Regions from separate parts of the Homo sapiens genome. Here region 2 is linked to region 1. The links come from fine-mapping of genetic effects on gene expression. Tissue or cell type: whole blood. Region 1 holds a variant in brackets; the other region holds the start of a gene. All regions are shown on one strand. Distances are from middle to middle. Region 1 has its middle 18 kb from the start of MIR4703. Region 2 holds the start of WDFY2 (WD repeat and FYVE domain containing 2).

The links.
Region 2: WDFY2 starts here. The variant in region 1 is fine-mapped to the expression of WDFY2 in whole blood (TOPMed, PIP above 0.99). The same link has a PIP of 0.9 or more in blood mononuclear cells.

Annotation. Positions count from the first base shown.
Region 1 is chr13:51,532,556-51,536,951 of GRCh38, reverse strand. No RefSeq gene overlaps it. Among named protein-coding and RNA genes, the nearest start is that of MIR4703, 18 kb to the left of the region's middle. The variant T/C (reference allele first, on the strand shown) is at 2,436.
Region 2 is chr13:51,582,529-51,586,924 of GRCh38, reverse strand. It overlaps WDFY2 (WD repeat and FYVE domain containing 2), which reads right to left and starts at 2,463. Exons shown (of 12, transcript NM_052950.4): 1 at 2,101-2,463. The coding sequence starts at 2,237. It also overlaps the pseudogene RNY1P6. RefSeq lists a silencer at 2,243-2,612 and enhancers at 2,753-3,032, 2,691-3,211.

The DNA.
Region 1 (4,396 bases):
AGTATCTTGTTTTGTCAAAGGGATATTTGGATTTTTGTGGGAAAATCTATTTTGTATTGCCAGACACACTAGTAATCGAATCCAAGTTACTGAATTTTTTGGCTTTTTTTTTTTTTTTTAATAGATGGGGGTTTCACCATGTTGCCCAGGCTGGTCTTGAACTCCTGGCCTCAAGTGATCCTCCCACCTTGGTCTCCCAAAGCGTTGAGATTACAGGCATGAGCTGCCATGCCCGGCCATCAAGTCATTGAATTTTGATTACACATTCTTTTCCATTGATAATAGTTATGATTTTTAGAAGAGCAATCAAGATCGAGTGCTTGTTGTGAAACATCATAGACTTTCAGAGATGTAAGTTACTTTGGGGATCTAGTCCAACCTTTAGTTCTAAATGAAGCTGAGAGAGGTAACTTAACATGGTGGCCAGAGCAAGACAAAACCAGGGCCTCCAAATTCTATTATATAAGTATTTAAGGCCACTGTGGCTGGGTCTCTCCCAGAAACCAGACTCTGACAGAGATTTGCTTGCAAGAAACACAATGGGGAGTGCCCTTGGAGTAAATACCTATAGGGGAGTGAAGGATTTAGGGTTGGGCAGAGGAAGGAGTTGAGCTGATCAAGTGATTCCCCATGTGCTCAGAGCTGGAACGACCCCTCTGAGTTACCCTGCCTTAAGGCAAGGGCCTGGGGCCTCTATGCCCTGTCCCTAACCGACCAGTCATTGATACAGGCTGCTTTCATGGGGGCAGCATGACCTTGGGCAAGGTGGCAGTCTTTCACTGAGGGCAATTCTGGGAGAAGGACTTCACTGAAGGTGCTCAGTCACCATCACTCCCAGCAGCTGGAGAAGTGAGCACCACAGTCCTTCAGAAGGCTCCGCAGCTTCTGCTATAATGCCAAAGAAGAGATTGGTAATGATGTCTTCATACACGATTTCTCCCACTAGTTAACAAGACCCTCATCAACAGATCCCCATTTTATACTGGGCTCAAAAGAAGTATAAAATATATCATATTGCTAAGATGCTATTAGGAACTCAATAATATTTTTGACAGATAAAAATAAAATAAATTAATCGAAACATTAACTGTGGTTTGAAGACAGCAACCTTTTTTTTTTTTTGAGATGGAGTCTCACTCTGTTGCCCAGGCTGAAGTGCAGTGGCATGGTCTCAGCTCACTGCAACCTCTGAGCCCAGGTTCAAGTGATTCTCGTGCCTCCTTCTCGTGCCTCAGCCTCCCGAGTAGCCAGGACTACAGGCGTGAGCCACCACGCCCAGCTACTTTTTTTGTATTTTTAGTAGAGACAGGGTTTCGCCATGTTGGCCAGGCTGGTCTTGAACTCCTGACCTCTGGTGATCCACCCGCGGTTGGCCTCCCAAAGTGCTGGGATTACAGGCATGGGCCACCGTGCCTGGCCTGAAGATGGTAATTTTTATAAAGACATTTCCCCTCTTACTTTTATAAAGACATTTCCCCTCTTAATTAAAGCTATAATTTGAAATTAGAAATATGATTCATCATGTTACATTAAAATCTGAATATTAGAAAGCCTCTTTGCTTTTTGATTGGCTTTTAACCCACACCATTGTGTGTGTGGGGTGAGGGGGATTAGAAACCAACATATTATTTTAAGATGAAAGAACATGAGGGTAAGCCCAAAGATACAACTTTCATGAAAGGCTTCCCTGTTGTCCTAATTAATTGCACAGAATCCTACGAGGGAAAACCCCTGCTAACTTCTAAGTTAGCTTGATATTCTTTTTTTCATTTGTATCACCAAGGGGTACAAAGTGAATAAATCAATATCCCTGGAACATACATTTAAAAATGCTAAACTTTTTATCTCCCTAACAGTTTCTTGTTTCATTAAGAAATTGGATTAAAGAAAAATCTTCACATTTAAAGCAGGATGAAGACTTGAAGTCTGAAGGATACAACACTAAAATATAAGACATGGTATGTCACATGAAAAATGTGGGTTTGTATTGAATAGCTCAGGTGTTTTCATTCCATCTGGAAGATCATTTGTGCCAAAGGAATATTTAATGTACTTATATACTACTGTCTGTGTGCACAAAATAATTTTGGTCTAAGGAAAAGACATCCCTGTTTTAACCAGTGCTCCAAACAAGAAGCAACCTTCAAGAATAACAGTAACAACAGAAGAACTAAAACATCACAAATTGCATTGAGAACTATAATGAATGGCTTTTTGTGTCACTAAAGCAGCCCCTTGGCAGGCCCAGCTGCAGCTGTTAACATTTCGGGAGCATTCAAATTGGGCAGATGTGCCAAAGTGCGGCCATGCCCCCTTTCCAGGGTGTAGGACATCATGTTTCAGTCATGGGCCTAAAGGAGTGGCCTCAGGAAACCTCACCCAGGAAGTGGCTGCGGCTGTCTCAGGGTTAGTGGTGTAAAGCAAGAGGCTGTCTC[T/C]GGTATTCCCTGACTTCTCAAAATGCCAAATAATCAACTAGTTGAAGCTTCAGCTGAGCTTTACCTTTTAAGAATATCATGTACAATAAAATAATATTGATTTGGATATAATCATTCAGAGCTCAAAATAATTTTCATGGAAGTTTATAATTTTTTGCTTTTGTGAATAGTTTGCTAAATAATTTATGATGCAAAGAAAAGGTGGTGACTTCCTGTGGGTCGGAGAGGGCGTGGTGACCTACAGGGAGCTTTGCTAGGATTCCAGAACCAGTGTGTGCTATAGCAATGAGAAACAGGGCAAATATCCTCACCTCTTCCCCCTAAACTACCATACTTCATTCATGTAATGAAGTCACAGTCCACATTTTCCAGCTTCCGTTTTCTTTGAATGAGACATTAGTGTATCAACTGAGCTGCCTTCACTCTAGTCCCCAATATCTTTCCTTTATCAGGAGTGTGTCAACATGAAAACAGAACTATTCATGATTTGTTTTCCTGTAGACAAAGTCACCAGGTGATTATTTTGTCTACAAGTTATTATGTTATTATGTAGATGAATAAGTGCATATTTAGGCCAACAAAACAAAAAAAAAAGCCCTTTAAAAACTTTTAGAAAAGAATTCTGCAACAGAACTGTTTGCTTGGGTTTGCCTACTCCAGAAATGTAGACCTGGACTCAAATAGATATTGCTCACCTTAGCCAGGTATATATAATAATAATACAGGCTTGGCACAGTGGCTCATATCTATAATCCCAGCACTTTGGGAGGCTGAGGGAGGTGGATTGCTTGAGCCCAGGAGTTTGAGACCAGCCCAGGCAACATGGTGAAACCCTGTCTCTACAAAAGATACAAAAATTAGCTGGGCATGGCAGCATGCATCTGTGATCCCAGCTACTTGGGAGGCTGATGTGGGAGGATTGCTTGAACCTGGGAGGCAGAGGTTGCAGTGAGCCAAGATGGCACCACTGCACTCCAGACTGGGTGACAGAGCGAGACTCTGTCTCAAAAACTAAAATAACAACAATAATAAATAATACCAGAAGAGTTTATTTACTTGGAAGTTTATAAAAACCACAAAACATTCGTTGACAATGAAGTTACTCTCTAGAATTAGAACTGTATTTCATAGAAATATGCAATTTTCTTTGCATTATTTTTCCCCCAAACAAATTTAAAGGTTTCTGATATTCTCCATATCTTTCTAGTGAGATCTCTCAGAACAGTTTTGAAAGAACTGAAAACCTTCCAGCAGTGTTTTTTAGTGGGTGAGGGGAGAGGAATTTCAATCAGTAACATCTTAAACAGCTCTCAAATTGTCCTTGGACCAGACCACGGGACTCCACAGTAAGTTCCCCTCTCTGCATACCACAGTCTCAGGAATCTTTCTGATCTTCACTTCCATTGTAATCTAATTCTTGTGCCCTTGCAATTTGATACCTCAGACTGCACCTTCCTCCCCAAGTTCACTACTGCCTGAGCCAGAGACTGTGTTTCCCTTTTTCTGATATCCCACTGCTAAAGGCCATGCTCCCACACCCAGTTCTCAGTCTCTGTACCCTAACTCAAGTCAGCTGGATTCTCCAGTTGCAACAACGGCATTCTCTGAACTTGTGGGTTAATGCCCAGCATTTTGTGTGATCTTTGGTAGTGGAAAGTGATGATTCACACATCTCATGGTCCTCTGGTCTGGAAAGTTCTTAACCACTGTCTATGTAGCATTGAACCCTGGCAAATTCTGAGAAATGGGTTTTCAAGAACCCACTTTAAGAGTGTATCTACCACATCCTATCTATCCAAAAGAATTCTGTGTGTGCTAGAGAAAGCATCACAAGTTTGGGAGTAGACGCTGCTCTCTCCCTATTCAGTGTCAATTAGAATTTTTCCAGTGCATCCCAAGAGGCACCAGATATTGAAGGCAGGACTTTCTACTCTTTTTGCCCTTACAATTCTTACAGTTGA
Region 2 (4,396 bases), 50 kb before region 1:
AACTGAGCTCTAAATAACAAAGTTATGTTCATGTTTGAGTATATGACCCAAAGAAGCACAGACTTGTCAACTTGAAAAAAAGTATATTAATAATAATTCCAGACTTATGGGTGAACCTTATTTAACAGTAACTCCATGACAAAATAATTTCTATTATTTACATTGTACACTAGGAAAGTGAAAATTAGGCTAAGACATAGCTGAACATTGCATTTCTTTCATCCTATAATCAAATGAAATTTATTCTTCAGTTTCATTAATATACACTACTTCAGCGTCTCCAAACACTTGAAAATATACCCCAGTAAAGCTGTTTCCTTCAAGGTAAATGTGGTGAAATGGGAATCAGAAGTTTCAATACTATAATAACACCTTAATATTAAAGGAGCTTAGGATGGTCTGAAGGTAGTTTTATTATCTCAATTGTTCACAGTCAGTTACAGATTGAACTCCTTGTTCTACTCTCTTCCCCTTCTCACTACCGTACTTAACTAGTCTTAAAAAAATAAATAAAATATTAAAGCAGCTTAGGTTTAACTACCCTTCTCCTTTTCTTGATTCCATGAATTTGCTTATGAATTTTCCACAGCAGTTAGAAATTGATCAGTTCCATCTCCAGTAGTTACAGACTGGGAAAGTGACATCTACCAATATATTCCTTCAATATATTTTATGGAATATATCCCATAAAAACAATACTGTGCCAAAGAATTTCTAGGTCCAGAAGCAGTCTTTTTAATAAAATTTTGCCTTTATGGAAAAAATCAAACTTTCTCATAAGGCTTCTCTGTGAATTTCAAAAGGGTCCTACATCCATGTACTCCATTTCAGCCATGAATTTCTTCTGTTCATTGCAGAATGCTTGCCACTGGTGTATGTTTACAATGTTTTCCATTGGATCTGCACAGGAAATTAATCAGGCGCCATTTGTATTGAGCATGATGTAGACAAGAACATGTCATTAATATACTCATCCTAGTTATACTGAAGAACCTAAGACATGAACAAACCTATCGAGCTCAATTGTTGAGGCCACACACTATGCTAAGTGCGGAAATGACTATAAAGACAGCAATGAGCACTTTGTTGCTCAGCCTCTCAATTTTGAGTCACCAAGAAAGGATACTTTACCTCTGCATGATTTGAACTTATATTAAGAAAACCTACTTACTGTAAAATCCCCGTGTTATGTACCTCTACAGTGTTCTTTTGTAAGAATGCTTATATAGATTTTACCAAAGAAACAATTTCAGATAAATTATCATAATACTATCTTCAAGCAACATTACTCTAGAAATTAGCTTCATCAGCTTTATTCCTGCATATTCAAGGAAATTCAGTTAAAGCGAAAACGCAAAACAGAGAGAGTATTTGAAGGCAGAACAACTAGTTCCACTTCTGCATATTAAGCAAAATTAAGCAAAAATAAAGGAAACAGGCAAAGGGAAGGAACTCAAGAGCTATTTGCAGCAGTGATCCGTTACAAGTTCTACGCGCTTCTCCTCGAGCTCCAAGAGATAAGGAGGGGAAAGGAAAGAAGGCACCACGCAGAAGCCTAAACTTACTCTTGGTACAACTTAGAATATTCACTGAATTCAGCCTAAGATGTCTGGGTTATCTGGATTCAGTAGGAATGTCTGGGAAGAAGGAGTGGCATTTGCTTTCTCCGTTTGAAACCCTGGGAGCTGTACGAGAGTACCCCAAACCCCTTGGTTATCTTGCAGAGGCGGCTCAGGGCATCGTTCCCCAAGCACACACCTGCAAAGCCGGGCGGCTCCTCCCCTCTTTCCCTCCTGTCCTCAGGGATGGACCAAAGTCCCTCCAGCGCACCGTTAGCCCGAGGGCCACCCGGCTCCCGCAGGCACTACCCAGCCCGGGGTGAAGCCGGAGCGCTCGCCGCCGTCCCGGCTCCGCTTCCCGGAGCCACACAGCGGAGGCGGCGCGCAGCTGAACACCGGCACCACCAGGATGCGCATTACAATAAAACTTGGGGGAGCAAGTCTACACTCGCGCCGACGTGAAGGCACAGCCCCTGACGCGGGCTCGAGGGCCGTCGGCCCGTCCCGCCCCTCCTCGCGGCCGAATGGCAGTAGTCCATACCTGTCCTCGGAGACGCTGATGACGCCCTCCTCTTTGGGCACGATCACGGCCATATTCACCACCTCCTGGGACCCCTCCATCCGCTGCAGCAGGATCGGCTTGCGGGTCAGAGGCTTGGGCTGGATCTCCGCCGCCATCGGAGGAGGGGGCGCGCCTGGGGCGCCGCCGCCAACCGCGCCGCGGGGCCGGGCTGAGGAGACTGCTGGAGCACGGACACAGGTTGAGACAGAGACTCTGGCTGGCCGGAGCGGAACGCCGGAAACCGGCGAGCATAGCCTGGCCGCCTCTCTCGGGAACGACTCCGCGCTCCCTGCTTCAGGCACCAAAACCGCCACGACCTGGGATGCAAGCCGGCGCCACTACAAGAGGAGGGGGCGGAGCGCCGGGGGGCGGAGCCTGTGTGGGCGGGGCCTGCCGCAGGGGGTAGCCGCTGGTGGGCGCGAGGGCGGCTCCACTTCCGGGAGGGTGGTGAAGGAGGAGGGGAAACCTGGAGCAGGAGGCGGGGATCTGGTATCCCAATGCGCGTGCGTCAGTCCCGCAAGCCCATTTTCACCCCTCCCCTCCGCGACTCCCCGGGCGCTGCAGCACCACTAGGACGCATGCGCTTTCCGTTCCTCGCGGTCTTCTCTCTGCCTTACACACCCAAGGGTTAGGCTCCTCCCTCTTTAACCTCCCGTGAACGCGCGTATACACACCCCTGGGGACGCGCTTGCCAGACGCCACGCCCCTTCGAAATTCCCTGAAAAGAGGGCGGAGGTGGGGCGGGGAAAGGAGCGCCTCAGCAAGACCGGAAAGAGAAGAGGCCTGCAGGAAGGAAAGCCGCCCAACTCGTTGGGACGTGACTTGGCATGCGCGCGGGCTACCTGGCCTAGCGGTCTTAACAATGAAGCGCGGCGGGAGGCCGCTTACTGCTCCCAACATGCACCAGGCCCAGGCTGCCGGAGGGAACCCAGTGGCCTCCTGGGAGTCGTAGTTTCTTGGAGCCTCCGCCCCCTTGTCCTGGAATGACCTATCGCCCACTTTCTGCGCTATGGGCCTGAGGAGCTCAGCGGCCTCCAGGGCCATTGGCCAAGTCAGGACCCAGACTTGCCTCTATGGGAACTGAGGGGCAGCCCCCAGCTGAGTAGGACGTCACCACTCCTAGGGTCAGACTGATGCTCGGAATAGTGGCACGGAAGGGACATGAAAAGGAGAGAATCTTTCATACAGACATCTTCAAGGGAGCTCAGAGAACATATGGGGTGTCTATCCCCTCGTTTTCTTAGATGGCTAAATTACACAGCCAAGGTTACTTTAGTGCAAAGTTAGGGCTAAACAACCCCTCCTTCCCTCCAGACTTGAACCCAGGCCCCTAGTGCTGGCTTCTTTCCATTTCCCCAGCAATCCAGCCTTTTTAGCTTGCTCCAGACACAACGGACAGAGTTACTGTAGTTACTGACTGAATGTTAGGTGCCTACCAGAAGGCCTGGCATGTGGGGTTGATCGTGAAGACTAAGCTCTGCTTTTTTATCTTGCCCAAATTCCTATCTAAGGGGTCTGGGGAGTCATGGCCTACAAAAACCATAAATTCTCATCAGATGGGTTTTGACCATGTAGGTCATGACTTACTTTCCAGTCTGACTCTGGCGTAACAAGGAAGAAAATCAAAATGTTTTACCCCAAATTATATTTCCTTGCCATGCCTTAAAATTGCCCTGCAAAGTCTCTTGTGGGAAAAATCCACATTCTATATCCCCTTTCCCCTTTGTTTTCCTTCCTTCCTTCCTACACCCAGGAGATAACCAACTAAGAGCCAGGCACCGTTTTAGGTCTGGTAAGGAACATTTTACAACCTGCTGTCTCTAAAGGCTGCTATCTAAAAGATTCCTCTGCACAATAAAACCTGGTCTCCACAATCCTTTACCTTAACCTGAACATTCCTTTCCGTTGATCCCAGGTCTTCAGATAAACTCAACCAATTGTCAACCAAAAAACGTTTAAATTTACCTATAGCCTTGAAGCCCCCGCTTTAAGTGGTCCCACTTTTCTGAACCAAACCAATGTATTTCTTAAATGTATTTGATTGATGTCTCATGCCTTCTTAAGATATATAAAACTCAGCTGTACCCCGACCACCTTGGGCACATGTTCTCAGGACCTCCTAAGGGCTATGTCACGGGCCACGGTCACTCATATTTGGCTCAGAATAAATCTCTTAAAATATTTTACAAAGTTTAATTCTTTTCATCAATAGTCGTTATGTGATAACCTCCACTGAACAATCCCAGAATTAAGTTAGCCGAAGAGTAGTAATGGT